Regions from separate parts of the Homo sapiens genome. Here all the other regions are linked to region 1. Evidence: fine-mapped expression QTL. A gene starts in region 1. Each other region holds a variant in brackets. All regions are shown on one strand. Distances are from middle to middle. Region 1 holds the start of ASB3 (ankyrin repeat and SOCS box containing 3). Region 2 overlaps ASB3 (ankyrin repeat and SOCS box containing 3). Region 3 overlaps ASB3 (ankyrin repeat and SOCS box containing 3).

What was found. PIP is the estimated chance that this variant, and not a neighbour inherited with it, causes the effect.
Region 2: its variant is the best candidate, but not a certain one, in a credible set for the expression of ASB3 in lymphoblastoid cells (GEUVADIS, PIP 0.65).
Region 3: its variant is the best candidate, but not a certain one, in a credible set for the expression of ASB3 in whole blood (TOPMed, PIP 0.69).

The regions. Positions count from the first base shown.
Region 1 is chr2:53,780,530-53,791,109 of GRCh38, forward strand. ASB3 (ankyrin repeat and SOCS box containing 3) reads right to left here and starts at 6,424. Exons shown (of 10, transcript NM_016115.5): 1 at 6,292-6,424. The region is part of intron 1 of GPR75-ASB3 (GPR75-ASB3 readthrough); the gene reads right to left. It overlaps ERLEC1 (endoplasmic reticulum lectin 1), which reads left to right and starts at 6,515. Exons shown (of 14, transcript NM_015701.5): 1 at 6,515-6,843. The coding sequence starts at 6,682. RefSeq lists enhancers at 5,914-6,572, 6,088-6,507.
Region 2 is chr2:53,755,869-53,766,448 of GRCh38, forward strand. It overlaps ASB3 (ankyrin repeat and SOCS box containing 3), which reads right to left. Exons shown (of 10, transcript NM_016115.5): 2 at 9,509-9,717. The coding sequence starts at 9,704. It overlaps GPR75-ASB3 (GPR75-ASB3 readthrough), which reads right to left. Exons shown (of 10, transcript NM_001164165.2): 2 at 9,509-9,717. Among named protein-coding and RNA genes, the nearest start is that of CHAC2, 6.6 kb to the right of the region's middle. The variant A/G (reference allele first, on the strand shown) is at 4,554.
Region 3 is chr2:53,715,859-53,726,438 of GRCh38, forward strand. It overlaps ASB3 (ankyrin repeat and SOCS box containing 3), which reads right to left. Exons shown (of 10, transcript NM_016115.5): 6 at 708-885. GPR75-ASB3 (GPR75-ASB3 readthrough) reads right to left here. Exons shown (of 10, transcript NM_001164165.2): 6 at 708-885. Among named protein-coding and RNA genes, the nearest start is that of CHAC2, 47 kb to the right of the region's middle. The variant C/A (reference allele first, on the strand shown) is at 4,962.

The DNA of each region.
Region 1 (10,580 bases):
GCAATTTGGGAGGCCAAAGCAAGGGGATCACTTGAAGTCAGTAGTTTGAGACCAGCCTGGGCAATATAGTGAGACCATGTCTCTACAAAAATGTAAAAATTAGCTGGGCATAGTGGCACATGTCTGCAGTCCTAGCCACTCTGGAGGATAAAGCAGAAGGATCTCTTGAGCCCAGAAGTTCAAGGCTGCAGTGAGCTATCATAAGGCCCCTACACTTCAGCCTGAACAACACAGCAATACTCTGTCTCTAAAACTAATAACAAATAAATAAAATACAACCAGAATACAGAAAGGCAAATTACCAATTCAAAGTAGCAGAATCAGAGAAAGCTTCATAGAAAAAACAAAAAGGTGTTCATGTGTCAGAGAATAATGGTTAACACTTATGTAGCACTAACTATATGCTAGATTCTATTCCAAGTGCTTTATGTATATTAACTCATTTAATCCTTATTTTCTACGATGATGAAAATTGCTTAAGTAAAACAAATGTAGTATCATTTATTGAACATTTACAACATGCCAGGAACTGTGCTAAGCACTGAACAGGAACAAAATGAAATTAAGGCCTACAATTTTAAAAAGAACAAAAAAGGAAGCCGGGCAAGTGGCTCACACCTGTAATCCCAGCACTTTGGGAGGCTTGAGGGGGCAAATCACTTGAGCCCAGGAGTTCAAGACCAGCCTGGGCAACATGGCAAAACCCTATCTCTTACAAAAAATACAAAAAAAATTAGCCAGGCGTGGTGGTGCACACCTGTAGTTCCAGCTACTGAGAAGGCTGAGGTGGGAGGATCACTTTAGCCCAGGAGGTTGAGGCTACAATGAGCCAAAACCATGCCATTGCACTCTAGTCTAGGCAACAAAGTGAGACTCTGTCTCCAAAAAAAAAAAAAAAAGTGAGAGATGGTAGTTATCTCATTTTGTACCTCCATTGGTAGGGCTTAACCCCTTTGAGATTCTTTCCATTTTTTTTTTCTTTTGAGACAGAGTTTCACTCTTGTTGCCCAGTCTGGAGTACAATGGCGCCATCTTGGCTCACCACAATGTCTGCCTCCCAGGTTCAAGTGATTCTCCTGCTTCAGCCTCCAGAGTAGCTGAGATTACAGGCATGAGCCACCACGCCTGTCTAATTTTCTATTTTCAGGAGAGACAGGGTTTCTCCAGGTTGGTCAGGCTGGTCTTGAATTCCCAACCTCAGGTGATCCGCCTGCCTCAGCCTCCCAAAGTGCTGGGATTACAGGCGTGAGCCACCACGCCCGGCGGAGATTCTTTTTTAATTAGGACAAAATAAAATAGGACTTTTTAAAACAGGATTTAAAAGATTCACCTAATTACTTATCTCCTACAGCCATAATTTTCTTTTTAAACAACAGTATGCCTTGCCCAATTTTTTCAACAGCATTGATTTATTCAACAAGTACTGGCTGGGTGCCATGGCTCACATCTGTAATCCCAACACTCTGGGAAACCAAGAATTCAAAAAATAAAAAAATTAGCTAGGCAGGCTGGTGCACACCTGTAGTCCCAGCTACTCAGGAGGCTGAGGTGATGGGAGGATCGCTTGAGCCCCAGAGGTTGGGATGGCAGTGAGCAGTGATCATGCAACTGCACTCTAGCCCGGGTGACAAAGCGAGACCCTGTCTCAAAAACAAACAAACAAACAAAAAAACAATGGATTACTCACTCTATGCAAGGCAAACTAAGCACATACATTTTCCTCCGCTTCCTAACAAAATCGCACTGAAATGCACTCATTCATTCTGGAAGAGAAAGCAGGTAGGATTATGCTGAGGATTAAGCCAGTGCAGAGAAAACTGCAGTCCAGAACACACACACATGCATACATGAGAAGGCTATAGCAATGTAGAAGACATTCTTGCCAGCAGAGCCTGGAGAGGTACCAATCTTAGAAACAAGCAGAGGAAGGACGTAGGACTAAAATCAGAATTATTATAATATTTATATGAAACAGCAAGCCAAACTTTTTACCACAGCCCTTTACACACAAAACGCCTGGCAGCAACAGTATTTGTTTCTGGCTAAAACCACATCTATTTTGTTGTTATTGCTCTTTTTAATTTAACAGTCTACCCTGGAAGCCTTTGAGCATCTTCATGTTCCATAACAAAGCATTCCTTATTTGGGTACAGGGTGGAAGGAGAGGAGGAAAGAGGCAACTCGTTTCTTGCACTTCACTCAAGGACCCTAAAGTTAGACCCAACAGCTAGTACCCTGCTCACTTACAAAAGAGCTCAATAATTTTTTTTTTTTTAGATGAAGTTTCACTTTTGTCATCCAGGCTGGAGTGCAATGGCGCAATCTCGGCTCACTGCAACCTCCGCCTCCCAGGTTTAAGTGATTCTCCTGCCCCAGCCTCTTGAGTAGCTGGGATTACAGAAGCCTGCCAAGACTTCCGGCTAATTTTTTTATTTTCGGAGAGACAGGGTTTCACCATGTTGGCCAGGCTGGTCTTGACCTTCCAGACCTCAGGTGATCTCTCAAAGTGCTGGAATTACCGGTGTGAGCCACTATGCCCCGCCAAGAATTTTTTTTTTTGAAGTAAAAGCACAACAGACAGAAAGGATGAAAATAAACAACTGACCTGAAAGAAGCAGAGCTATTTCCGGGAATGGGACATAAATATTTAAAAGTTATAAGTGTTATCCTCAAAGAAATTCATGTCATGAGAACAATGCATCCATTAAAAATAACTAGATGACTAGAAACTGTGGGGAAAAAACCACTGAAAAAAGAAAGTGAAAAGAACTGAAAATCAAGGAAATGGACCTCTTGGATTGATCCTTCGTATTATGTATTTTTTCTTTTTATATTTTTCCTCTGTATTTGGAAGAATCTATCTAAATGTATTTGGAAGAACCTATCTAAATTCTGAATAGAACAGAGAAAATGTCAAGAACATAATTAAAGAAATAATTGAAGAAAATTTCCCAGAAGTGAAAAATAGGATTCATAGAGTGCCAAGAAGGATGAATGAAAAAAGATTCACCACCTAGAAACACTGATAAAATATCACAGAACCAATGATAAAGAAAACAGTCTAATAAAATCTTCCAGAGAAAAAAGTATGATACCTGCAAAAGAAAGAGACTGGCATTAGACTTGTCATCAGATACACTAGACACAAAAAGCAAGAGAATGTCTTCAGAGTTTTGAAGAAAACAAAATGATTGTGGACTAAGTCTATTCCCAAGCTATCATTAAATGAGCAGGCAAGGTAAAGGCATTTTCAGACATATGAAGTCTGTGGAAATTAAATTACCTGTTTAATCCTTCCTGAAAAAAATTGCTTGAAATTAGTTATACCCCTACAAGGTGGGAAAAAAATCTATGACAAATGAGGACATGGAATACATAAAGCAGTAGACCTAACCCAGGCATGATACAAAAAAATCTCAGTAAACAGGTATGCAACTGACTTGTAAAGCAACTAGTCTAAATTACATGTGTGAGAGCTGGAAATACAGCTTCAGGAGCAAAATGAGTTTATTTTAGCAAACATGGTGCCATTATTAGGAAGCTAATAGGATACCTTAATTGGCAGAGGTAGAATTACATTTTTTCTCTGCAGATGCAATCATACTTAATAGTTTTATAGCGAATGATGATTGTATAATTACAATATGGTAAATAGTTGATAAGTTTTCAATGTTTAAGAATCAACCTATAAATAAAGCATAAAAGACTTGTACTGATTGATGTCCTGTGGCTCCTTAAAATGTGTAAAACCCAAGTGTAGCCCGACCACTTTGGGCACATGCTGTCAGGACCTCCTGAGGCTGTCTGTGACACGTCCTTAACCTTGGCAAAATAAACTTCTAAACTGGTTGAGACTTGTCTCAACTACTTTTTGGTTTTCATCCTCTATTACCTTCCTGAGGCTGCTGTAACAAATGACCACAAACTGAGCAGCTTAGACAGCATAAATTGATTGTCTCACAATTCTAGAAACTAGAGGTCAGAAATCAAGATGTCAGCAGGGCTATTCTCTCTCTCTGAAAGCTCTAAAGAAGGATTCTTCCTTGCCTCTTCCTAGCTTGTGGTGATTACTGGCAATCTTTAGCATTCCTTGTCTTATAGACACATACTGCAATCTTGCTGCCTCCTCCTTCCTGGCATGGCATTCTCCCTGTGTGTCCATGTGTATCCAAATTTCCCTCTTCTTATAAAGATACCAGTCACCAGATTAGGGCCCCCTTTGATTCAGTATGACCTCATCCTTACTTGAATTATATTTGCAAAGACCCTATCCCAAGTAGTTCACACTCACAGGTTCTAGGGGATAGGACTTAAACATGTCTTTTTGGGGAACACAATTCAACCCACAACACCCCCTACAATCAATTTTCCACACAGCAGCCACAATGATCTTCACAAATGTACATCGGGTCCTGTCCACTCTCCTGCCTACAGAGCTGTCTCCCTGGCCTCTTTCTGCTTCTCAAACTTCTTCTACCACTTTCCTCTTACACTCCAGCCACACTGGCCTTCTTTCTATCACTCCAACACATCAAGCTCATTCCTGCCTCAGGGCCTCTGCCTAGAAATTTGTCTGGCTCCCTTCTTTTCATCATTCAAGTCACAATTCAAATGTCACTTCCTCACAGAAGTCTCCTCTGACTTACGTACTAAAAGCAACACATCCTACAGGTATTGTCTTTCACATAACCTTAGTTTCTTTGCAGCACTTACCAATACTAGAAATTATTTTACTTATTTAAGTTCCCCTCTTACTTGAACATCAGCTCTATTGAACACAGATTCAATCACTATAGCCCTAAATGCTAAAACAGGACCTCACAGACAGTTTTCATTTTTATTCCGTCAAATACATCTCTTTTCCTTCATGACTTAAGACTAGTGCTTAGCACAGAATAAATGCTAAAAAAAAAAAAAATTGACTATTACTACTATAATAGTTTGCAATTATTTGTTTGTACAATCTCCCTGCCTAGACTGTGTGACCAAAGACAGAAACCCATTTATTTGGCATTTTACCAAGCCCAGGGGGGCCAGGCACAGTGGCTCAGGCCTGTAATCCCAGCACTTTGGAAGGCCGAGGAGGGCGGATCACCCGAGGTCAGGAGTTCGAGACCAGCCTGGCCAACGTGGTGAAACCCTGCCTCTACTAAAAATACAAAAATTAGGGTGTAGCGGCGCGCGCCTGTAATCCCAACTACTCGGAAGGCTGAGAAAAAGGAGAATCCCTTGAACTCCAGAGGCGGAGGTTGCAGTGAGCCAAGATTATGCCTCTGCACTCCAGCCTGGGTGACAGAGCGAGACTTTGTCTCAAAACAAACAACAACAACAAAAATCCCAGGAGTCTGGATCACATTAAGCATTAATAAGAAGTGCTGAATATAATTAGCGAATAACAATTCTGAAGAAAGTTATCTTCTTTGATACTATGGATTCCTGATGTTAAAAAAAAATTTTTAAGATAGAATATGGGACTGTCCTTCCTGCTTTTTGATTTGGTTCAAATCTGAGGAAGTGGGGGCGACCAGTCTTTAACAGATCTAGCAAGACTGTCGAGCTTTAGGGAATGGTAATTTCTCTAAAGCCAACACTCTATGTCCATTATATTGGAGATCAAAACAGACAATGGCATTTTTTCTAAAGAGGGGGAGGGAAAAACAAAACTTTTTGTCTAATTTGGGGATGCAGTCAGACGTGACTTAGTTCATAAACACACACATTCATCTGGCGCTAAACCTCACATAAGGAACCTTACCAGCTTCCTTGATAAAACAACACCCCAACACTTCAATCTAGAGATGGAGGGTAAAAATGTAGGGTTGTGATGTCTAGCTGCCCATTCCACGAGAGTCGCCCACCACGCCAAATTCGGAGGCTTGCGGTATTCACCTACGGGGAGATGGCGGGCTACCTCACCCCAGGTTTCCCCTAACACAGAGTTGCAGTCGCTGAACAAACTGCCCTGCGTTAGTCAGAAGCTGTTAAGTAACGAGATGGCCACGGTCCACAGCAGAAGAGATGGAGATAAGCCTCAAGCGGGAAAAATGAAGTGTACAAATGCCAAATGCGGAGAAAAAGAAGAAAAGCTGCAAGAAGGCAGGTCAGTCAGGAACACCGCCATTTCTCACATCTCATCGCTACTTCGAATTTTCTCATCTAAGGACCCGCACCCGCACGGTTCACACTGTCTTCTTCCCGCTATCACTCCGTGTGGGTCAAACCTCTGCCTGCCCACTGGAGAGCAGCGGGAATGGCTTCAGGAAGCGGCTGCCGCCTCCGAGACTCACCGACCTGCCGTGCTGCCACTTCTACACCGAAATGGCTGGTCCGAGGCCGCGTCTCCAGAGCTGCGTCCCAGAAGCCCCCGCTTTCGATCCCCACCGCGATGCTGCAGCCGTCCGAAAACGAGAGACGCGCAGGCGACGTCCCGGCCCCCGTAGGCGGACGGCTCCGCGACCCCCGGATGTTGATATGTCGTCTGCCCCGGAAACGGTGACAGGAGGCTCAAGGGGGCGGAGGCGGCGTTGCCGGGCTCTCCGGAAGGAGACGTGGCGGCGGTTGGGCCGGTGATACCCGGGCGCTTTATAGTCCCGCCGCCTCCTCCTCCACCTCCTCCTCCTCCTCCTCTCCTCCTGGAGCAGAGGAGGTTGTGGCGGTGGCTGGAGAAAGCGGCGGCGGAGGATGGAGGAAGGAGGCGGCGGCGTACGGAGTCTGGTCCCGGGCGGGCCGGTGTTACTGGTCCTCTGCGGCCTCCTGGAGGCGTCCGGCGGCGGCCGAGCCCTTCCTCAACTCAGCGATGACATCCCTTTCCGAGTCAACTGGCCCGGCACCGAGTTCTCTCTGGTCAGTGCCCTCACTAACCCCGCAGCCACCCCTCCTCCTGACACTAAGGGTTCGGCCTCTTCCCTCGGTTTTCTTTGCTTTTTCTCCCCAAGACCTTCTCTGCAGACTCTTACCTTCCCCAAGCCAAAGCTGCTTTTATGCAGCGTTCATTCATTCGTTCGTTCTCACGTTATGTGGATGCGTCCCCCTTGCTGAGCATTAGGGATCCAGCAATCACCTGCTCTCCACCTTTTCAATTCTGTCGCACTAGACCTTGCTTCCCAACATTCCCACCCTGCAGAAGCAGCTTTCGTAGAATAACGTCAGGTGCACTTACTCATCTTCCTTTCGGAAAATTAACTGTGGCTCTTACTTCACCAGCAGACTTCTTTCCTTCAGTATTACATGTCACCCTGCCCACACCACAGTACTTCAGACTCGAGTTCCCTCTCTCGTATTCGTTCTCCCTCAGTTGTATACACACACGGACATACGCAAACGCACAGCTCCAAGGGAACTTTTTCCTTTCCTAGTTGTTTCTGAGAGGGCTATTTGGCCTGTGAGATGTTAACGACCCTTTATGCAGAATATCCTTTACAGTTTTCATGTATTACGACTGTTATTTGAGTCCCCAGAACATGAGCTTCTATGTTGAGTTTTCCTGTAGTGAAGAACATTTGTAACCTCGCGGAAATGAAAATTCCCTCTTGGGGGAGTGGACCGCTGAAAAGTCTTCCTGTCCACGTGTACCTACTGCAGGCTAATAAATATTGTACTCTTATGACACTTACCATGTAGTAATTAACTCATTTACTTCAAATTGAAGTCCCGGAAAAAGCAAAATTTTTTTAAACTTTTTATTCCAATTACCTTCAAGCATTCAACTTGCAATACTTTATTATATTCTTTCATTACCATTTCATTGAAACAGTAAGTGACACTATGATGTCAAAACAAGATGTGTCAAGTTAATGGATGTTATTACCACATAGCTTTCTATTTGCAAGTGTTAGGGGTTTTTTGGTTTGGTTTGGTTTGGTTTGGGTTTTTCTGTTTTTGTTTGTTTTTTGAGACAGGGTCTCAGTCTGTTGCCCATTCTGAAGTGCAGTGGTACGGTCACCACTGGCTGCAGCCTCGACCTCCTGGGCTCAAGAGATCTCCTCAGCTTCCCAGTAGCTGGGACTATAGGGAAATCCCACCACTCCTGGCTAATTTTTTTTTTTTTTTCTAGAGGCAGGGTCTCACTATGTTGCCTAGGCTGGTCTCGAACTCCTGGGCTCAAGCAATCCTCGTGCCTGAGCCTCCCAGAATACTGGGATTACATGTGTGAACCAAATGTTCTGAATTTATCTAGGTAAATATTTTTCTGGGACGTCAAATTTCTCTTTGTATTAATGCCACAAAATATTGATACATTGAAATACCTATGTAAAATTTTGTTATGAATCAGATATAACTTTAGCAGGCTTGGAAGAGAATACTTTAATACCTGTTGTTGTATCCAAAGAGCACACTTGGAGTGAATATGGCAGATGTTTGAAGAATTATGTCATTAAAATTTTTTACTCTTGGCACCTGTGTTTTTTTTAATTTAAAAAAACTTGCTGATATGCAGCCCTGAAAACTTACTATAAGCGAGCGACTAAAACTAGCATTTTTAGAGGTCACTACCAAATTGTCATTCCATTTTCTTTCAGTCTTAGCATTTGCTACACCAACTTTTCACGTATCTAACAATTTTATTTCAAAAAAAAAATGCTTTGGCCATGTGCGGCGGCTCACATCTGTAATCCCAGCACTTTGGGAGGCAGAGGCAGGCGGATTATGAGGTCAGGAATTCAAGACAAGCCTGACCAACGTGGTGAAACCCCATCTCTACTAAAAACACAAAAATTAGCTGGGCGTGGTGGTGCACACCAGTGCTCCCAGCTACTTGGGAGGCCGAGGCAGGAGAATCGCTTAAACCCGGGAGGTGGAGGTTGCACTGAGCCAAGATTGCACCACTGCACTCCAGCCTGGGTGACAGAGTGAGACTCTGTCTCAAAAAAAAAAAAAAAAAAAAAAATTCTTTTTTTAGAAGCTGGAGTGCAGTAGGTATTTATAGGCATGATTATGCTCACTACAGCCTCAAACTCCTGGGCTCAAGCCATCCTTCTGCCTCAGCCTCCTGAACAGCGAGGACTACAGGTGGTCACCATTGCATCTGGCTTTTTTTTCTTTAAGTCTGTGCTACTTTGAGAAAAATCTAGAGTGTTCTGTGAATTGTCACAAGGCCTATGTCCTTTATGTAAAAATAAGCCACAATAGTCATTATCATTGGTCTTTTGATTTTTTTTAATACTTCTATAACCTTAAGGCTTCCCTTTGCATTTAACTGAAATTACTGGCTGGGCACAGTGGCTGACGCCTATAATCCCAACATTTTGGGAGGCCGAGCTGGGTGGATTACTTGAGCCCAGGAGTTTGAGACTAGCCTAGGCAACATGGCGAAACCTTGTCTCTACTAAAAATAAAAAAATTAGCCGGGCATGGTGGCACATGTCTGTAGTTCCAGCTACTTGGGAGGCTGAGGCAGGAGAATCGCTTGAACCTTGGAGGCAGAAGTTGCAGTGATCCGAGATCATGCCACTGCACTCCATCCTGGGCGACAGAGGAGTCTGTCTCAAAAAAAAAAAAAAAAGAAAAGAAAAGAAACCACTACTCTCCTCACCTGGCGCTGCCATTTTTTTTAATGGGCCAGTTGGTTGGACATTTGTGTTTGTGACAGAGTCTCGCTCTGTCACCCAGGCTAGAGTACAATGGCGCCATCTCAGCTTACTGCAACTTCTGCCTCCCGGGTTCAAGCGATTCTTGTTGCCCAGCCTCCCCAGTAGCTGGGATTGTAAGCGTGCGCTACCACACCTGGCTAATTTTTTTTTGTATTTTTAGTAGAGATGAGGTTTCACCATTTTGGCCAGGCTGGTCTCAAACTCCTGAACTCAAGTGATCCGCCCACCTCGGCCTCCCAAAGTGCTGGGATTACAGGCATGAGCCACCGTGCCTGGCCGCGGGTTGGACATTTGTATCTAACTAATATGCAGCTGTATGAAATAGGATAAGGTCCTTTGTCTGTTTACTAACTGAAATTGGAAGAGACTGGATTAGAAGATCTGAATTTTTTAAGCTTTAAAATTGTCTGCTTTAAATTGTCTTCCCATTCAGATATATCAAAACAATATATAATTATTTACAATCTTGCTTTCAGATTTGCTTAGAAAAAGTATTAAGCACCAAAACTGTAAAATGGGGGTTGTTTGTGTGTTTTGGTAGAGATAGTTTCCCTATGTTGCTCATGCTGGTTTCAAACTCCTGGTCAAAACTATCCTCTGGTCTCAGCCTCTTAAAGCGCTGGGATTATAGGCATGAGCCACCTCACCTGGCCAAAAAATTTGTGTATTTTTGATGTGTACATTAACTAGAGTTAATAATTATGATATTCTTTGCTTATTGATGTTTAGCACTCAGTTTTGTTTTTGTGTTAATATTTTCCTTCTGAAGTATCACCTCTGTCGTTATGTTTAATTATTCATTACTTTATAGAGTTCAGAGATTTCACCAAATTAAACCACAAATCAGTCTAATTTTCTGTCTACTTCTGTTGTTGATGTAGAATATATTTTACTCAGATTTTCCCAAGCACTACTATTTGACCAACTCCATGGTTTATAGCATGTCATATACATTGACAGGTTCTACCAACAAGTGTATTTTATAGCCTC
Region 2 (10,580 bases), 25 kb before region 1:
AGGCCTAATGCAGTGGCTCATGCCTGTAATCCCAGCACTTTGGGAGGCCAAGGAAGGAGTATCACTTGAGGCCAGGAGTTTTGAGACCAACCTGGACAAAATAGTAAGACCCCCCCCCCACCTCTACAAAATATAGAAAATAAAAAAATTAGCCTGATGTGATGGCATATGTCTGCGGTCCCAGTTATTCCAGAGACTGAGATGGGAGGATCACTTGAGCCCAAGAGTTGGAGGCTGCAATGAGCCATGATCACACCACTGTACTCCAGCTTGAGCAACAGAGTAAGACCCCATCTCTTTAAAAAAATTTTTTTAATTAAAAAAATAAAAATAAGGTAAGTCTAGAACTTCCAAAGGGAAATCCTGCCTGTCTAACGACATCATTCTAATAGTAGAATCCAGCAGTCTCTGAAGAGACCCATCACTCAGATTTACATTTACTTGAGCTACTATATTCCCTTTCTTTGCTTAAGCTAGTTTGAACTAGGTTTCTTTCACTCAGTACTGAAAGAATCCTGATTAACATAGCATACAATTTAGCAGTATCTATAAATATTTTAACTTGGCATGGTGATGGTTAATTTTACATGTCAACTTGACTGGGTTAAGGGATGCCCAGATAGCTGCTAAAACATTTCTGGGTATATCCATGAAGATGTTTCAGGAAGACATTACCATTTGAATCAGCAGACTGAATAAACAAGACTTGCCCTCACCAATGTGGGCAGGCATCATGTAATCCTTCAAGGACCTAAAAGAAAAAAAAGGCAGGGAACCCCCTTTGGGTCCCCTCCCATTGTATGGGAGCTCTGTTTTCACTCTATTAAATCTTGCAACTGCACACTCTCTGGTCCGTGTTTGTTCCAGTTCAAACTGAGCTTTCACTCACCGTCCACCACTGCTGATCACCGTCGTCGCAGACCCGCTGTTGACTTCTACCCCTCCGATCTGGCAGGGTGTCCACTGCACTTCTGATCCAGCGAGGCGGCGCCCATTGCCACTCCCAGTCGGGCTAGAGGCTCACCATTGTTCCTGCACAGGCTAAGTGCCTGGGGTTCATCCTAATCGAGCTGAACAGAGCTGTAACACTCACCGCATGACCCAAGATTCCATTCCTTGGAATCCGTGAGGTCAAGAACCCGAGGTCAGAGAACAAGAGGCTTGCCACCATCTTGGAAGCAGCCTACCACCATCTTAGGAGCTCTAAGAACAAGGACCCCCCAGTAACATTTTGGTGACCACAAAGGGACCTCAAAAGCGGTGAGTAATATTGGACCACTTTCACTTGCTATTCTGTCCTATCCTTCCTTAGAATTGGAGGAAAATACCGGGCACCTGTCAGCCAGTTAAAAATAATTAGTGTGGCTGCCAGACTTAAGACTCAGGTGTGAGGCTATCTGGGAAAGGGCTTTCTAACAACGTCCAACCCTTCTGGGTTGGGAGCGTTGGTCTGCCTGGAACCAGCTTCTGCTTTCAATTTTCCTGGGGAGGCCGAGGGCCGACTAGAGGCAGAAAGCTGTCGTCCCGAACTCCCGGCGTTAGCTGGTTGAGATCATGGCGCAGCCGAAGTCTCTACTCAACAGTCGCCCGTGCATGCACCCCTACCTTTCCTTCTGACCCATACCTCCTGGGTCCCGACCATGACTTTCTTGAAAGTGTAGCCCAAAATTCTCCTTACTTCTGAATCTACTTCCTCCGATCCCTGCCTCCTAGGTACTAATGGTTCAGACTTCATTTCCTCTCCCAAGTATTAGAGCAAGTTGTATCTCCAAAGGGATCTAAGGAAGTTCTATGCTGTGTCCTTAGGTACCTAGGCTATGAACCCAGGGAATCTTGTCCCTGGTGTCCCAGTTTAGATATACAGCTCTCAACATGGGCAGTTATGTGGGACCCATTCCCCACCACCCTTGCCAGGGCCCCAAGTTTGTAAATGGCTAGGAGGATTGCTCTCTCATCATGTAAGATGCTCTCCTCCCCTGATTTTTACCCAGCTTATCCCTCTGCAATACAATCTCCAAGCCTTGGCTCCTTGGCCAGGGCCTTGAAACTCATGACCCAGTACTTTAACAACTGGAACTGGGTCTATGACAACATAATAGATCAGGATGAAAGCGAATTAAGTAACTCAAGGAGAGAAGAGACAGAGAGAGAGAGAAAAGAGAGGGAGAGAGAGAAAAAGAGAGATAGAAGTAGTAAAGAAAAAACAGTGCACCCTATTCCTTTAAAAGCCAGGGTAAATTTAAAACCTATAATTGATAACTGAAGGTCTTCTCTGTGACCCTATAACACTCCAATACTACCTTGTTGTCAGTGTAAACAAGGGCGTAGCCTGAAAACACTGAGACCACTGACAACACATAGCCTTCCTATCAAAAATCCTTAACCCAGTAACCCACGGAAAAAGGCACATGGGATAAACAGGATCCATCTCTCAAATTTCATACCGGCAAGGACTTAATCCGGGGCAACAAAAAGTTTAAGATTGATAATTAGGGCGTATTCCTACAAGGGAAAAGGACAAAGGCCCTAGTGGGCAAAAACTCTACCTCAATCCTAACTCAAAAGGTTACCTACACCCTCTCTGAAAAGAATTTGCATAAGAACTGTTGTTTATGGGAACGCATCTTGATGGGGCAGCTGGGTTGTTATAAAATACTCAGGAACCCAGCCCAGCTCTAGAACTCACCCTTGAGCGCAAAGGCAATATTGGGCATGCTGGTAAAGGACCACTAGAATCCAGCAGCCCGGACCCCTTTCTTTGTGGTCAAGAAAGGTGGGAAAAGGGGTGCAGGACTGCTACATTGGTGAGTGTAACTAATCCGATAAGCAGAGGTCCATGGGTAGTTGTACACCCTGGAAAGGAATAAGCACTAGGACCACAGAGGACGCTCTAGTCCTCTGGGATAATGCTCATTGGAAAATGACTAGAGGTGCTGGCATCCCTATGTTCTTTTTTCAGATGGGACATGTTCCCCACAAGGCAAAAACGCCCCTAAGATATATTCTGGAGAATTCGGCCCAGAGTGTATGTACCTTTTTCCCTGTCAGACTTGAAGCAAATTAAAATAGACCTAGGTAAATTATCAGATAACCCTGATGGCTATATTGATGTTTTACAAGGGTTAGAACAATGCTTTTATCGGACATAGACAGATATAATGTTGCTGCTAGATCAGACGCTAACCACAAAAGAGAGAAGTGCCACCATAACTGCAGCCAGAGAGTTTGGCAATCTCTGGTATCTCAGTCAGGTCAATGATAGGATGACAACAGAAGAAAGAGAACAATTCTCCACAGGCCAGGAGGCAGTTCCCAGTGTAGACCCTCACTGGGACGCAAAATCAGAACATGGAGATTGGTGCCGCAGACATTTGCTAACTTGCGTGCAAGAAGGCTAAGGAAAACTAGGAGGAAGACTATGAATTATTCAATGATGTCCACTATAACACAGGAAAAGGAAGAAAAATCCTACCGCCTTTCTGGAGACACTAAGGGAGGCTTTGAGAAAGCATACCTCTCTGTCGCATGACTCTATTGAGGGCCAACTAATCTTAAAGGATAAGTTTATCACTCAGTCAGCTGCAGACATTAGAACAAAACTTCAAAAGTCCGCCTTAGGCCCGGAGCAAAACTTAGAAACCCTACTGAACTTGGCAACCTCAGTTTTTTATAATAAAGATCAGGAGGAGCAGGCAGAACGGGATAAACGGGATAAGAAAAAGGCCACCACTTTAGTCATGGTCTTCAGGCAAATGGACTTTGAAGGCTCTGGAACAGGGAAAGGCTGGGCAAATCGAATGCCTAACAGGGATTGCTTCCAGTATGGTTTACAAGGACACTTTAAAAAAGATTGTCCGAATAGAAATAAGCCTCCCCCTCGTCCATGCCCCTTATGTCAAGGGAATCATTGGAAGGCCCACTGCCCCAGGGGACGAAGGTCCTCTGAGTCAGAAGCCACTAACCAGATGATACAGCAGCAGGACTGAGGGTGTCCGGGGCAAGCACCAGCCCACGCCATCACCCTCACAGAGCCCCGGGTATGCTTGATCATTGAGGGCCAGGAGGTTAACTGTCTCCTGGACACTGGCGCAGCTGTCTCAGTCTTACTCTCCTGTCCTGGACAACTGTCCTCCAGATCTGTCACTATCTGAGGGGATCCTAGGACAGGCAGTCACTATATACTTCTCCCAGCCACTAAGTTGTGACTGGCGAACTTTACTCTTTTCACATGTCTTTCTAATTATGCCTGAAAGCCCCACTCCTTTGTTAGGGAGAGACATCCTAGGAAAAGCAGGGGCCGTTATACACTAGAATTAGGAGAAGGAAAAAGGGTAAATATATATAAAGACTCTAAGTATGCTTACCTAACTCTCCATGCCCATGCAACAATATGGAGAGAAAGGGAATTCCTAACTTCCGAGGGAATACCTATCAAACATCAGGAAGACATTAGGAGATTATTTTTGGCTCTACAGAAACCTAAAGAGGTGGCAGTTTTACACTGCCAGGGTCACCAGAAAGAAAAGAAAAGAAGTAGAAGGGAACCGCCAAGC[A/G]GATATTGAAGCCAAAAGAGTTGCAAGGTAGGACCCTCCATTAGAAATGCTTACAGAAGGACCCCTAGTATGGGGTAATCCCCTCCAGGAAACCAAGGCCCAGTACTCAGCAGAAGAAATAGAATGGGGAACCTCAAGAGTACATAGCTTCTTCCCCTCAGGATGGCTAGCCACTGAAGAAGGAAAAATACTTTTGCCTGCAGCTAACCAATGGAAATTACTTAAAACCCTTCACTAGACCTTTCACTTAGGCATTGATAGCACCCATCAGATGGCCAAATCATTATTTACTAGACCAGGCCTTTTCAAAACTATCAAGCAGATAGTCAGGATCTGTGAAGTGTGCCGAAGAAATAATCCCTGGCACTTCAGGCCTACATTTCAATCCCTGTATCTTTAACCTCCTTGTTAAGTTTGTCTCTTCCAGAATCAAAGCTGTAAAATTACAAATTGTTCTTCAAATAGAACCCCAGATGCAGTCCATGACTAAGATCTACCGTGGACCCCTGGAACAGCCTGCTAGCCCATGCTCCGATGTTAATGACATTGAAGGCACTCCTCCTGATGAAATCTAAACTGCACGACCCCTACTATGCCCCAATACAGCAGGAAGCACTTAAGAGCAGTCGTCGGCCAACCTCCCCAACAGCACTTGGGTTTTACTGTTGAGAGGGGGGACTGAGAGACAGGACTAGCTGGATTTCCTAGGCAGACTAAGAATTCCTAAGCCTAGCTGGGAAAGGTGACCGCACCTACCTTTAAACACCGGGCTTGTAACTCAGCTCACACCTGACCAATCAGGTAGTAAAGAGGGCTCACTAAAATACAAATTAGGCTACAGCATGAGGTAAAGAAATAGTCAAATCATATATCGCCTGAGAGCACAGAGGGAGGGACAATGATCAGGATATAAACTCAGGCATTCGAGCAGGGAGCAGCAACCCCCTTTGGGTCCCCTCCCGTTGTATGGGGGCTCTGTTTTCACTCTATTAATCCTGCAAATGAAAAAAAAAAGGCAGAAGGAGAATTCATTCTCTCTTGAACTAGGACATGCATCTTCTCCTGCCCTTGGATACTGGAGATCCTGATCCTCAGGCCTTCAAACTCCAGGACTCATACCAGTGGCCTCCCACACCCCAGTTCTCAGTCCTTTGGCCTCAGACTGAGAGTTACACTATCACTTCCCCTGGTTCTCAGGCCTTCAGACTTAGGGTGAGTTACACCACCAGCTTTCCTGGTTCTCCATCTTACAGAGAGCATATGATGGGACTTCTCAGCTCCCATAATTACATTAGCCAATTCCCATAGTAAATCCCCTCTTGTCTATCTATATATATTCTATTGGTTCTATTTCTCCAGGAAACTCTAACTTATCAAACAGTAATTGCACTTCTAAAACTCCATCCTACAGAAATGGTTAACCATGTAGACAAAGATATATACATAAGGATGTTCACTGAATCACTAGTTATAACAGCAAAACTTTAGGAAACAAACAAAATATCTATCAATAGAAGAATGGTTACATAAATTACATTACATCTCTACCATGAAATACTACACAAAAGTGTTTTCACTCAAGAGAGCAGAAGAGTGACTTGGTCTGTTGCATTTTAAAATGATCCCTCTAATATATTGAGGGTGGTCTGTCATAGGATGCAGAAGGAGCAATGGCAGATAGAGAAGATCTGTTAAGATGCTATTATAGCAACGCAGACAAGGTATTAATGGTAGTGAGAAGTGATCTAACTGTGTGTGTGTGTGTGTGTGTGTATACATACACACAAATATAGACATACACATACACAAATTTGCTGACTGACTAGATGAGAAATATGAGAAAAAGAAAGGAATTAATGATGGCCCAGAGTTTCTGGCCTGAGCTGGAACAATGGAATATTTCTATCTAACAGATGAAAAAACTAAACCACTTAGAGGTTAAAAAACCTGTCCAAAGTCACACCAATAAAATGGTAGAGTCACTAGAATTCAGGTCCATCTGACCGTAACTCTTAATCGCTGTGCTACAATGATTTATTTGTCTAAGGAACTTCTGCATCTGTTACTGTGCCCAGTATTAGTGCGTATTTTCTTATTTAACATGAACTAATAAAAAATACTATGAGCTAGATCATTTATTAGCCAAATAAAAGTATTTTTTAGCTATATGCTTAATAATTATAAGATTTTTAAGGGACTTTTAGTCAGCAAATGACTTATTATTGAATGGCATTAATTGTCAGTGAAGATCATTACTGCCCTCCAGGATGACAAGCTTCATAAAATCTCAACACCCATTACACCCAACCTCCAATACAGGAGAGAAGACAAGCAAATTTGTTATCTGTGCTAATATGTTAAACAGAAAACTAAAATGAGATACATAAGAAATACAAAAATATGTATGCATATTAAACTTCTATGTAATCTACACCACACTTGAATGCTCTTCTCCAACTTGAGTCAGAAGACCATGTATGGTACTCAGAATGGATTCCAAATCTAAATTGAAGAGACAGTGAAGCAAAACTCTTCTAATCATTTTAGATATTTCCATTTTATTTGTGTAGGCCTACATACCTTCTTATTTGGGTGCACTAATTATCTTTTAGGAATCTCTGACAGTGTATTAATATTAGATAAACCTCAGGGAGGTAGGAAAATTATATAATAAAAGACAGCAGGTGTGATGCATCACACCTGTAATCCCAGCACTTTGGGAAGCCAAGGCAGGAGGATCACTTGAGCCAAGGGTTTGAGACCAGCCTCGGCAACAAAGTGAGACAGTTAGCCAGGCATTGGTGGTGTGCACCTGTAGTCCCAGCTACTTGGGAGACTGAGGCAGGAGAACCGCTTGAATCTGGGAGGTGGAGGTGGTGGTGAGCTGAGGTCGCACCACTGCACTCCCACCTGGGCAACAGAGCAAGACTCTGTCTCAGAAAAAAAGGAAATACAGTCGGGCTTCTGTATCCACGGGTTTTGCACCTGCAGATTCAACCAACTGGGATGGAAGATAATAGCATTTGTAGGATGTGGAACCCACAGATACAGACGGCTGACCTTTTGTATGTGTGTATAGGACGTTTTCCTATCTTCAGGGCAGACTGCCGAACTTGAGGAGCATCCATGAATTTTGGTGTCCGTGGACATTTTGGGACCAATTCCCTGTGGATATGGCAGGACAACTGTAGAGATGAATTTAACAGCCAGTTCAAATGCCTTTAGTCAAAAGCATGCCCAAGTTTACTCAGCAGATGAAAAAAATCTGTAACATAAACTACACTATTCCGATATGAAGAAGAGATGTAACAGTATATTGGAAATGAGCTTTTTGCCTAGAAAAGGATATTCAAACTCATGTCTTTGTTACTAAAAATAGTTTGGGAACTCAAGCTTTATAGTTAACTTCAAACAGATTCTGAAAACATATCTTAAGCGTTTGAAATTAGAGGAATAACATCTATTTTTCCACTATCTTCAAACACTCAACTATAATAGACACTAGACACTTGAACATGTGATTTTAAAAACAATCATGACAAATTTCCTGCATTATGATTTAGGAAGTTTAGCCTTACCATCTCTTACCTGTTAAGACAAAAAAAAGAAAAAAACAAAACAACAACAACAAAAAAAACACCTACCACTACCAAAAACAATGTAAAGATTATTTCCTTTCCCGTCCAGCAGGTAACAAATTAGTAGTTCTGATGGGCTATGGACCCAGAAGTTTATATTTTAAGGACCTATACCTGGTGATGACAAGTATGCAGGAAAGAGGGTCTGAATTTCCACGATCAATGAAATGAAATTGGTTCTGAGTGTTACAATGCAGAGTATTATAGTCAACCTCATTTTAACTGAATGCTATAAATTCATTCAATTAAATGTTAGAAGCTTGGTATGAGAGGAAAAAAAAGGGCTTTAGAGTCAGAGAAATGGGTTCAAATCAAATACCCTAGTTTATTATGTAACCTTTTACAAGTCAACTTCTCTGAGCCTTGGTCTTTTCACCAATAAAATGAGGATAATACTGCCTCTAACACCATTTTTATAAATATTAGATAAAGAAGATAAATTGAGCATGTGGCACAATGACTATCACAAAGCAATGCTCAGTCACCATTTGTTTTCTTCCTACCCCCTCTATACTAAATGTCAGAATCTCGCCTTTAGTCAATGACCTTCACTCAGTAGTGTGCTGGTTAACATTTAATAACTAGCTGTCCAGAGGGAAGAAAGCCCAGTTTATAGCACTGGTTTGTAGCACTGGCTTGTTTCTGTGGTGTAAATACTCCTACCATGGCCGATCCCAAGCATGAAGTCACTGAATGCAGAGATGTAAAGAGATGTGCAGTAGCACACCATTTTTGTCTATCCCATCTGTTTTATTATCTCTACTTTGTTTTATTTTCTTCATAACACTTTTACCTTTTTAAATTATCTTGTTTAATTATTTAGATATTTGTCATCTGTTTCCTCTGACAAGAAAAAGCATCAGGAAGGCAGGCATCTTGTTTCATGCTAAGTAGTTGTAAAAATTCCCAAAAGTATTAAAAAGTGTTTAAAAAGAAAAAGACTAATTCAATCAAAACACATCCTCAATTTCAGTACAATTGCTCTTTCTGTTTGGTAAAGGAAGAAAGAATAAACATGACCAGTAACTACCAAATGCTTAAATTCAAACAGCAGACTACTTCTCCCATATCACCTAGCTCAGTCAATAAAAAGAGGCCAGACAGAGGCACTTCCGTATAAGATGTCCAACTAGAGTATCATACTAATTGAATCCAAGGCAGGCAATCTTACTATCCTTAATAAATAAATTCAGGCAGTTATTTTATGACTATAGAAAGGGAAACAAATACTACTGTTAATAAGTTATGTATTATACTTTTTTATGTTTTATTAATCCAGCTTGTAGGCAAAGCCTCCATACCTTGAATTTACTTTACCTGCATTAATTAACATTTGCAAACATTCTACAGAGTTGTGATAAGCTGCTTCATGAATTGGCATCCATCCCCTGTTATCAGCAACATCGACACTTCGGCCCTTTTTGAGCAGTTTCCTTAAGACTTTAACATTGCCTTCCCTGGCAGCAAGTCCAACTGTAGAGCACGTGTCCGCGTAAGCCTCTGTAAAATCCATTTGTTTGACCAGTCTACAAAACAAGGTAGAAGGATAATACTATAGTCAATAAAACAACACTTCACTCCTAGAGGTCAGCAAATCACGGTGGGCCTGTCTAGTATCTCTCACATGACTGACGAAGAAGGGCCCACAATACAGAAAGTGACTGCCATGCCACAGTCTCTGCTGGTGCCTAAAGCAGGAAGTTTCTCTGTTTGGCAGATTGGAATTCCTTGGAAGGTTCCCACTAAAAACATGAAGGGACTTTTAAGTGTTCTATCTTTCCTCCTCTGGAAATGTTTGAGGAGTAGGCTTCTGCTCCTGTTCATACCCCACCACAACGCATTCTTTGGTGCTCCATTGATAAGAGCACCCTCTTTGGTGCTCCATTGATAAGAGCACCTCTGCTTAATCCCCAGTGTACACTACATTATGCAGAGATGGCCATTCAACTACCAGCAATGCTCAGCCTCAATATACAGCCCTCTATAGGAAACAACTAAACCCAAAGAGGCCAGAAAAGCAGTGAAAGATAGGTGTCATTCTAGTCTTCCTGCACCTGCTTGTCCTTTCCAGAAGAGGTTAAACACTCAGATTCTCTATGCTTGACCAAATAGACCCACTGACTGAGCATACTGAAACCAACAGAGAACACCATGAAGAGATGAGCCCGGTTTTCCTACATAGCCCAGAAAGTTCTTAACAGAGTTCTTGCCCACATCATCACCTCCCTCCAATGCTCACTTCAAGTTCCCCTCCAGTCAGAGTCCAGTATAGCTCTCATGTGACTCTCTCGAAGACACAATTTCTTGTTAGTGACTCTATGAAGCAGTTTGGATATGGAATACTTATTTGATTACATAACTATTGTTAATTTTCTCAGATGTGATAATG
Region 3 (10,580 bases), 65 kb before region 1:
TTTAAATTAAATAATACTAATAGCAGCTATAAAAAGTGCTATTATAGAATTATGGCTCTAAAGATTCTAAACATGTATTTCTAAAAATTATTGACTGCCAATTTATGATAGGTAGCCATATTCTCACATATATTTCTAAAAATCATTGACTGCCAATTTATGATAGGTAGCCATATTCTCACAGGTATAACCAAGTTACTAGCTTCTAAGATTCCTGGAACCCCCATTTACTCTCTCTCCAATTTGAGGTTAGATCAAGAAAAGTTCAGTCAAAGGGTTTAAGACAGGGAGGACTACTTAGCACACACTCCAACAGGCATCACAAACTCAAAAGCTTTCTGGGGTCAGAGAGGTAACATGGATGGCCTCATCAGATTGATGCTTAAAGATGCCTGGGATAAAACTAGGGAGGAGGAGGCGGCGGATACAGCCATAACTAGAGAAATCAATGGGAAGAGTCAACACCCCGAGAAAGTCCCTGAGCCTACCCAGTCTGTAGCAATTCTGCCTCACAATATGAAAGTGCAGGAATAGTAGGAGCAAAAGACAGCATGAAGGACAGATTAGGGGTAGATCTGTTCACCCAGCAGATTGGTAGGGAAGAGAATATCAAAGACTTTGCCTAGAGGTGAAGGGTCTAGCCCAGATTTATTCTTTATTAGCTTTTGATTAAGAGACCATGTTTATTTTCTGTTTTTAACACTTACTTTGTATGGCCCATTTGTGCAGCTGCATGAATAGGTAACTGCCAACTGTCCTCATTACAGTAAAGATCAGGATCTGCCCCACTGGAGAGCAAAAGCTCCACACATTTTGTGTGTCCCTCTTGAGCAGCAATGAACAAGGGTGTAGCTTTGTCCAAGGCTTGACAATTGACATTTGCACCTAAGGGTACAAAATAAAACATTTAACAGATAACCCTAATACTTAAAAAAATCAACACAAATTTCAAAGGAACTACCATAAAAGGGTTTCGTAGCACGGTAAGCTTTTCCCTCTTCACTGAATGTTGGATGTTGTTATATAAACATATTTACTTTGCTAACTTCTTGGTAATCATTTAAATTGTCTTCGCTAAACTGACAGGGTAGCTCATGCCTGGAATCCCAGCAATTTAGGAAGCTGTGGCCAGAGGATTGCTTGAGGCCACGTGTTTGAGACCAGCCTGGGCAACATAGTGAGACCCTGTCTCTATCAAAAATAAAAAGGTCTTGCCTCTACGTCAGCAAGAAAACAAGTGATTCATATCTTAGAATTCATTTTTAAGCTAAAACAAAAATCCTATTCAATGAAGGATACATTTCATTCCAATCCCTCCTCCAACAAGCATTCTGGGGCCCAATAAGTAAACATTTAAAAAGAAAAATGCAAACTATCAAACATGGATAATATTTCTGATAACTGCTGAAAAAGATAAAATCCAAATTATGCCACTAATTGATTCAGGCTAAGATTTATGAAAAATTATCAGTAGATATGACATATATGGGAGCCACGCCTTAAAACTAATATTGACTATACTCTCTATTACATCTCTTTCTTCATAACCACTGCATGATAAATAATGCCTACAATCAGAGAAAAAGGGTCTCTTTCAACAGGTTTCTGAGTTGATATTTAAAATCATAAATGTGAAAGGGAAAAACAATAATATTATAGTGAAAGAAAGAAAAAGAAAAAAATCCCACCTGCATGAAAATAATTACAAAAATTAGAAGTGTGAACATCTCCAGATGAAAAGGAACTACCCCAAGAATTTTGGATTTGTGAAAAATCTAAATATAGTGACACCACTGAAGGATCACAGTCGTGTTCCCGCAATGGTTCCTGACCCAAATGGAAACTCAGAAATGACAGATAAAGAATTCAAAGCAAGGATTGCAAGGAAGCTCAACAAGATCCAGACAAGGTTGAAAATAAACACAAAGAAACTTCTAAAGCAATTCAGGAAATGAAGGCATCTTAAGATAAACATCTTAAAAAGGAATCAATCAGAGCTTCTGGAATTGAAAAACTCACTTAAGGAATTTCAAAATATAACTGCAAGTTTTATTAATAGACTAGGCCAAGCAGAAGGAAGAATTTTGGAGCTTGAAGATCAGTCTTTCAAACTAACCCAGTCAGATAAAAATAAAAATAAAAAATTTTTAATGAAAAAGGCTTTGAGAAATATTTGATAATGTAAAGCAACCAAATCTATGAATTATTGGTATTCCTGAGAGAGAAGGAGAAAAAGTAAATGACCTGGAAAACATATTTGAGGACATAATTTAAGAAAATTTCCCTAATCTTGCCAGAGAGGAAGACATCCAGATAGAAGCAATACAGAGAACTCTCTGTGAACGTGAATATCACCATGGCATACAGTCACCAGACTGTTGAAGGTTAACACTAAAGAAAAAATCTTACAGGCAGCTAGAGAAAAACGTCAGATCACATACAAAAGGAACAGTGGACTTCTCAGCAGAAACCTTACAAGGCAAGAGAGATTGGGGGTCTATTTTCAGCATTCTTAAAGAGAGGACACTACAACCAAGAATTTCATATTCCACCAAACTAAGCTTCACAAACGAAGGAGAAATAAAATATTTTACAGACAAGCAAGCGATAAGACAATTTGTTACCACTAGACCAGTCTTAGCAGAGATCCTTAAGGGACTTTTAAACATGGAAATGAAAGAACAACACTGATACCACAAAAACACACTGAAGTACATAGCCCAAAGACCCCATAATACAATCATACAATAGAAACTGCAAAGCAACCATCTACCAACTTAATAATAGGATCAAAACCTCACATATCAATATTAACCTTGAATGTAAAGGGTCTCTTCAGATCATACAAATCTTTCGCCTTTTACGAAACATCCTGCCTAAAAGGCACACAGCTGCAATTTGGATTAAAAAAAAAAAAAGAAAGAAAAAAGACCCATCCATCTGCTGCCTTCAAGAGACACGTCTCACATGTAACAACACCCATAGGCTCAAAGTAAAGGGTTGAAAAAAGATTTATCAACCAAATGGAAAACAAAAAAGGTCAGGGGTCACTAGTTTTTTATTTTATTTTATTTTATTTTTGAGACTGAGTCTCGCCGTGTCGCCAGGCTGGAGTGCAATGGTGCGATCTCGGCTTACTGCAACCTCTGCCTCCTGGGTTCAAGCAATTCTCCTGCCTCAGCCTCCCGAGTAGCTGGGACTACAGGCATGCACTACCACGCCCAGCTGATTTTTGTATTTTTAGCAGATAGAGACGGGGTTTCACCATGTTGGCCAGGATGGTCTTGATCTCTTGACCTCGTGATCCACCCACCTCGGCCTCCCAAAGTGCTGGGATTACAGGCGTGAGCCACCACGCCCAACCAGGGGTCAATATTCTTATATCAGATAAAACAGACTTTAAATCAGACAACAGAGCCAGGCACAGTGGCTCACGCCTATAAGCCCAGAGCTTTGAGAGGCCGAAGTATGACAGAGCAGGAGTATCACCATCTTGCACAAGCACTGTTATTTTCCAATTCACCTTAATCAAAAACTTCCTAAATCCAAAGCGCATCAGCCTAAATGGCTAAGATCAGCATGATCATAAACAAAAAAAGCATCTCCGACCAGGAACATGCCAAACTCCTCTGCGACCAGAGACATGCTAGCTGCCCTGCTCTGGCTGGGAAGATGCCAGCCCCGAGATAACTCCCTTCCTTCTAGAAAGACGTCAGCCCCAAGATAATCCCCCCTTCACCCAGAGACATTCCAACCTCACCATAAACTTCTCCCCCACACATAAACACTCCAAGCTTGTGATAAGCCCCCTCACCCTAAAACCAATATATACTCATGTACTTAGCCTGTAAGAGAAAGTGCTCCTGATCGAAATCAGCCAGAAACCCTTCTCAGGTTTTATCTAAAGTAAACCTGTCTTTAACTGCCAACCCATCTTTTGTGTTTCTTTCCTCTTTCTTTAACTCTTACAAGGGGGGAGGATCGCTTGAGCTCAGGAGTTCAAGACCAGCCAGGGCAATGTGAAAGGAAAATAAATCTTGGGACCCCCACAATCACTAAGCCAAAGGGAAAAGTCAAGCTGGGAACTGCTTAGCGCAACCCTGCCTCCTATTCTATTCCTAAAAAATAGCTACTAAGATTAGAAAAAGTTACGTACCTCCCTCACAAGGAATTTCCCTGTGGACGAAGGACAGACAGAACTCAAACTCAAAGTCATCCCTCTGCTCACTGGGATAAGTGCATATCTGAGTGCCTCCTTTGGAAAGGCTAATCAGAAACTCAAAAAAAAAAAAAAAGGCAACCATTTGTCTCCTACCTACCTATGACCTGGACATACTCTCCCCACTTTGAGTTGTCCCGCTTTTCCAGACAGAACCAATGTATATCTTATATATGTTGATTGATGTCTCATGTATAAAACGTATAAAACCAAGTTGTGCCCCAACCACTTTGGGCATATGTTGCCAGGACCTCCTGAGGCTGTGTCACAGGCACATGCCCTTAATGTTGGCAAAATAAACTTCCTAAATTGACTGAGATCTCTCTCAGATATTTGGGGTTCACAGCAACACAGTGAGACCCCATTTCTATTCAAGAAAAAATTATATATAAAAAAACCAACAACAGTACAAAAGGACAAAGAAGGTAATTACATAATGATAAAGGGTTCAATTCAATGAGAAGACTTAACTATCCTAAATATACACACACCCAACATTGAAGCATCCAGTTTCATAAAACAAGCTCTTAGAGATCTATAGAGATAGCAATAATGTTGGGAGATGTCAAATCCCATTGACAGCATTAGACAGATCACTGAGGCAGAAAATTAAAAAACAAATTCTGGGTGTAAATTCAACATTTGACCAATTGGACCTAATACACATCTAAAGAACACTCCACTCATCAACCACAGAATATATATTCTTCTCAACAGCACATATAACATACTCCAAGACAGA[C/A]CACATGCTCGGCCAAAAAGCACATCTCAATAAATTTAAAAAACTGATTCACTTGTGAGGCCGAGATGGGCAGATCACTTGAAGGTCAGGAGTTTGAGACCAAATTGGCCAACACGATGAAACCCCATCTCTACTAAAAATACAAAAAAATTAGCTGGCCACAGGGGTGCGCGCCTGTAATCCCAGGTACTCAGGAGGCTGAGGCAGGAGAATTGCTTGAACCAGGAGGGGGAGGTTGCAGTGAGCCAAGATCATGCCACTGCACTCCAGTCTGGGTACAGAGCAAGACCCTGTCTCCAGAAATATAAATAAATAAATAAATAAATAAATAAATAAATAAATAAACTGAATTAATACCAACCATACTCTCAGACCACAGTAGAATAAAAATAGAAATCAATACCAAGAAGATCTTCCAAAACCACACAATTACATAGAAATTAACTTGCTCTTGGCTGGGCACAGTGGTTCACGCCTGTAATCCTAGCATTTTGGGAGGCCAAGGCAGGCAGATTGCCTGAGCTCAAGAGTTCGAGACCAGCCTGGAAATGTGGTGAAACCCCATCTCTACTAAACTACAAAAAAAAAAAAAAAAAAAAAAATTAGCCAGACATAGTGGTGTGTGCCTATAGTCCCAGCTACTCAGGAGACTGAGGCAGGAGAATTGCTTGAACCTGGGAGGCGGAGGTTGCGGTGAGCCTAGATGGTGCCACTGCACTCCAGCCTGGCGATAGAGTGAGACTCTGTCTCAAAATCAAACAAACAAACAAACAAACTTGCTCTTGGATAACTTTTAAGTAAACAATAAAATTATGGCAGAAATCAAAAAATTCTTTGAAATAAATAAAAACAGACACAGAACATATTAAAATGCAGCAAAAAGTGTTAAGAAGTTTATAATGCTAAACATCTAGCTCAGAAAGAAAGATCTCAAATTAATGATCCAATATCACACTTCGAGGAATAAGAAAAAACAGAACAAACTAACCCCAAAGCTATTAGAAGAAAAAAAATAATTAAAATCAGAGTGGAACTGAATGAAATTGAGACCCAAAAATCCATACAAAGGATCAATGAAACCAAAAGTTGGTTCTTTGAAAGGATAAACAAAATTGACAGACTGCTAGCTAGATAAAAAAAAGAGCGAAGGTCCAAATAAGCACAATCTGAAACAACAAAGTTGACATTACAATAGATTCTACAAAAATACACAAGATCCTCTGAGACTATTACGAACACCTCAATGCACGCAAATGAGAAAATCTAGAGGAAATGGATAAATCACACAATCTCTCAAGACTGAATCAGAAAGAAATTGAAATAGACCAATATCAAGTTCCAAAACTGAATCCATAATAAAAAAAAAAAAAACCTACCAACCAAAAGTCCTGGACCACATGAATTCACAGCCGAATTCTACCAGACATACAAAGAAAAACCAGTACCAATTCTACTGAAACCATTCCCAAAAATCAAGGAGGAGAGACTCCTCCCTAACTTGTTCTACAAAGCCAGCATCACCCTAATACAAAAATCTGGCAAAGACACAATGAAGAAAGAAAAGTACAGGCCAATAGTGCTGACGAACATAGATACAAAAATTCTCAACAAAATATTAGCAAATTAAATCCAGCAACACATCAAAAAGTTAATGCATCATGATCAAGTAGGCTTCATTGTTGAGAAACAAGGTTGGTTCCATATATGCAAATGAATAATTGGGATTCACCACGTAAAGAAAATTAAAAACCAAAACTATATGATCATCTCAACAGATGTGAGAAAAGCCTTCATAAAACCCAACATCCCTTCATGATAAAAACAAAACAAACAAAACAAAACCCTCAACAAACTAGGCATTGAAGGAATGTATCTTAATAAGAATCATCTATGACCAACCCACAGCCAACATCATACTGAACAGGCAAAAGCTGGAAGCATTCTCCTAGAGAAATGGAAGAAGACAAGGATACCCACTCTTACCACTCCTATTCAACATAGTACTGAAAGTCCTTGCCAGAACAATCAGGCAAGAGAAAGAAATAAAAGGCATCCAAATAGGAAAAGAAGAAGTCAAACAATCTCTCTTCTCTGACAATATGATTCTATACCAAGAAAACCCTGCAGACTCCACAAAAAGGCTCCTGAAGCTGATAAACAACTTCAGTAAAATTTCAGGTTACAAAATCAATGTATAAAATCAGCAGCATTTCTATACATCAACAATGTTCAAGCTGACAGCCAAATCAAGAACACAACTCCATTTATAACAGCCACCAAAAAAAAATTTTAAACCTGGGAATACATCTTACCAAGGAGGTGAAAGATCTCTACAAGGAGAACTACAAAATACTACTGAAAAAAAATCATAGATGACACAAACAAACGGAAAACGCTGCTCACGGATTGCAAAAATCAATATCATTTTAAAAAATACCCATACTGCCCAAAGCAATCTATAGATTCAACACTATTCCTTTTTTTATTTTTTCCCCTGTTAAATGTCAGAGTTTTTTGTTTTTGATTTTCATAAGTTATTGGGGAACAGGTAGTGTTTGGTTACATGAGAAAGTTCTTTAGTGGTGATTTGTGAGATTCTGGTGCACTCATCACCCAAGCAGTATACACTGCACCCAATTTGTGATCTTTTATCCCTCACCCCCTTCCCATCCTTTCCCTGAGTCCCTGAAGTGTCATTTTTATGCTTCAATGCTATTCCTATCAAACTACCGACACCATTTTTTACAGAATTAGAAAAAAAATTTCTTAAATTCATATGGAACCAAAAAAGGGCACAAATAGCCAAAGCAATACCAAGCAAAAAGAATAAAGCTGGAGGTATCACATTACCCAATTTCAAACTCTACTTTAAGGCTACAGTAACCAAAACAGCATGGTCCTGGTACAAAAACAGACACAAAGACCAATGGAATAGAATAGAGAATCCAGAAATACAGCCATGCACCTACAGCCATCTGATCTTTGACAAAGTTGACAAAAATAAGCAATGAGTTAGAGACTCCTTATTCAATAAACGGTGCTAGTATAGCTGGCTAGCTACATGTAGAAGAATGAAACTGGAACCCTATCTTTCACTATATACAAAAATCAACTCAAGATGGATTAAAAGTTTAAATGTAAGACCTCAAACTATAAAAATCCTAGTTAGAAAAAAAAATGAGAAAACACTGTTCTGGACATCGGCCCTGAGAAAGAATTTATGACTAAGTTCTCAAAAGCAATTGCAACAAAAACAAAAATTGGTAAGTGGGACCTAATTAATCTCTTTAGATTAATTAAGCTCTTTAGCTTCTGTAAAACAGAAGAATCCACAGACAACCCACAGAATAGGAGAAAATATTTGCTAACTAGGTATCTTTATAGATTCTGGATATTACACAAAGGTCTTTATCTTAACTTTGTCCAATATCTAGAATCTATAAGGAACTTAAACAATTCAACAAGCAAAAAACAACCCCATTAAGAACTGGGCAAAAGGACTGGGCACATTGGCTCACGCCTGTAATCTCAGCACTTTGGAGGCCAAGGCGGGTGGATCACGAGGTGAGGAGATCAAGACCATCCTGGCTAACACGGTGAAAACCCCATCTCTACTAAAAATACAAAAAATTAGCCAGGCATGGTGGCACGTGCCTGTAGTCCCAGCTACTTGGGAGGCTGAGGCAGGAGAATCACTTGAACCCAGGAGGCAGAGGTTGCAGTGAGCAGAGATAGTGCCACTGTACGCCATCCTGGGCAACATAGCAAGACTCCATTTCAAAAAAAAAAAAAAATTGGGCAAAAGACATGAAAAGATACTTCTCAAAAGAAGACATAGAAGCAGCCAACAAACACATGAAGAATTGCTCAACATCACCAATCACCACAGAAATGCAAATCAAAACCACAATGAGATATAATCTTATACCACTCAGAAAGGCTATTACTAAAAAGTCAAAAAACAACAGATGCTAGAGAGGTTGCAGACAAAGGGGAACGCTTATACATTCTTGGTGGGAATGTAAATTAGTTCAGCCACAGTGGAAAGCAGTTTGGAAATTTCTCAAAGAACTTAAAACTACCATTCAACCCAGCAATTCCATCACTGGGTATATATCCAAAAGAAAATAAATCATTCAACAAAAATATACATGCACTTGCATGTTCATCACGGCACCATTCACAATAGCAAAGACATGGAATCAACCTAGGTGCCCATCAATGGATACCTGGTGGATCAGATAAAGAAAACACAGTAGATGTACACCATGGAATACTACGCAGCCATAGAAAAGAATAAAATCATGTCCTTTCAGCAACATGGATGCAGCTGGAGGCCATTATTCTAAGTGAATTAACAAATTAACAAAAACCAAATACTGCATGTTCTTACTTATAAGTGGAGGCTAAACACTGGGTACTCAAGGACATAAAGATAGCAACAACAGATACTGGGGACTAATAGAGAGGGGAGGCAGGGAACAGGGCAAGGGCTGAAAAGCGAACTGTTGAGTACTATGCCCACTGTCTAAGTGATGAGGTCATTCATATCCCAAACCTCAGCATCATGCAATACACCTATGTAACAAACCTGCATGCATACCCTCTGAATCTGAAATAAAAGTTGAAATTATAAAAAATAAAATAAAATCACAAATCTAATTAAATTATATATACGCCATTGTATAAAGATTTTTAAAAGCTAACCTCACTTTTTGTGAAGATTTTGAAAATAGCAGTCATCTCCAAACTTTTCTTGTTGGCAAATAATGTATTAAATATGCTACATATGATGTTGTTACATGACCATGAGAGTTTTTTAAATTTCTAGAATACATTTCGGTGGAAAGATCATCATCAAGACGGAAAAGGCTGTCTTCTATTTAAAAGAATATTCCATAAATGCACCTTGAATAAACCAAAGTTTTATGTACGCAAAAACTACACAGAACACAAATGGTAAATTAAAGAGTCTATAGATCCTTCAGAAATTTCTCATGATAGAAACTAGAAACTTCATGATTTCTATAGGGTAGATGTTTCACCCACTGTCAGTTTCAGAAAGAAGTAAACACTATAACTGAAAAGAGACTAAGTCAAGAAAGAAACCTTAACTTTTTTTTTAATGCGTTATTTTGAGTGACAATTTCAAAGTATCACAAAGAATAAGGAACCAATTTCTTTAAAGACTACTGGTGAAAAAGTTGGAAAAATTACAGACAACTCACTGAAACGAAAGTAATAGGGGTTGGAAACATGTATAGTTACATGATAAACATACCTACATACCTTTTCAACTGATTATTCAAAACAATTCAGAGAGAAGAAATAAAAAGAACAAAGCAAACCAAAACAGGAGCTCAGAGCTCCAGGCGACAAGAAAACACACCTGACATGAGGAGAGACATTAAGGTGCAGTTTAATCTATTTAATCTAAATTTTTTTTTTTTTTTTTTTGGGAGACGGAGTCCCACTCTGTCACCCAGGCTGGAGTGCAGAGGCGCGATCTAGGCTCACTGCAACCTCTACCTCCTGGGTTTAAGCAATTCTCCTGCCTCAGCCTCCTGAGTAGCTGGGACTACAGGCGCACACCACTATGCCTGGCTAATTTTTTGTATT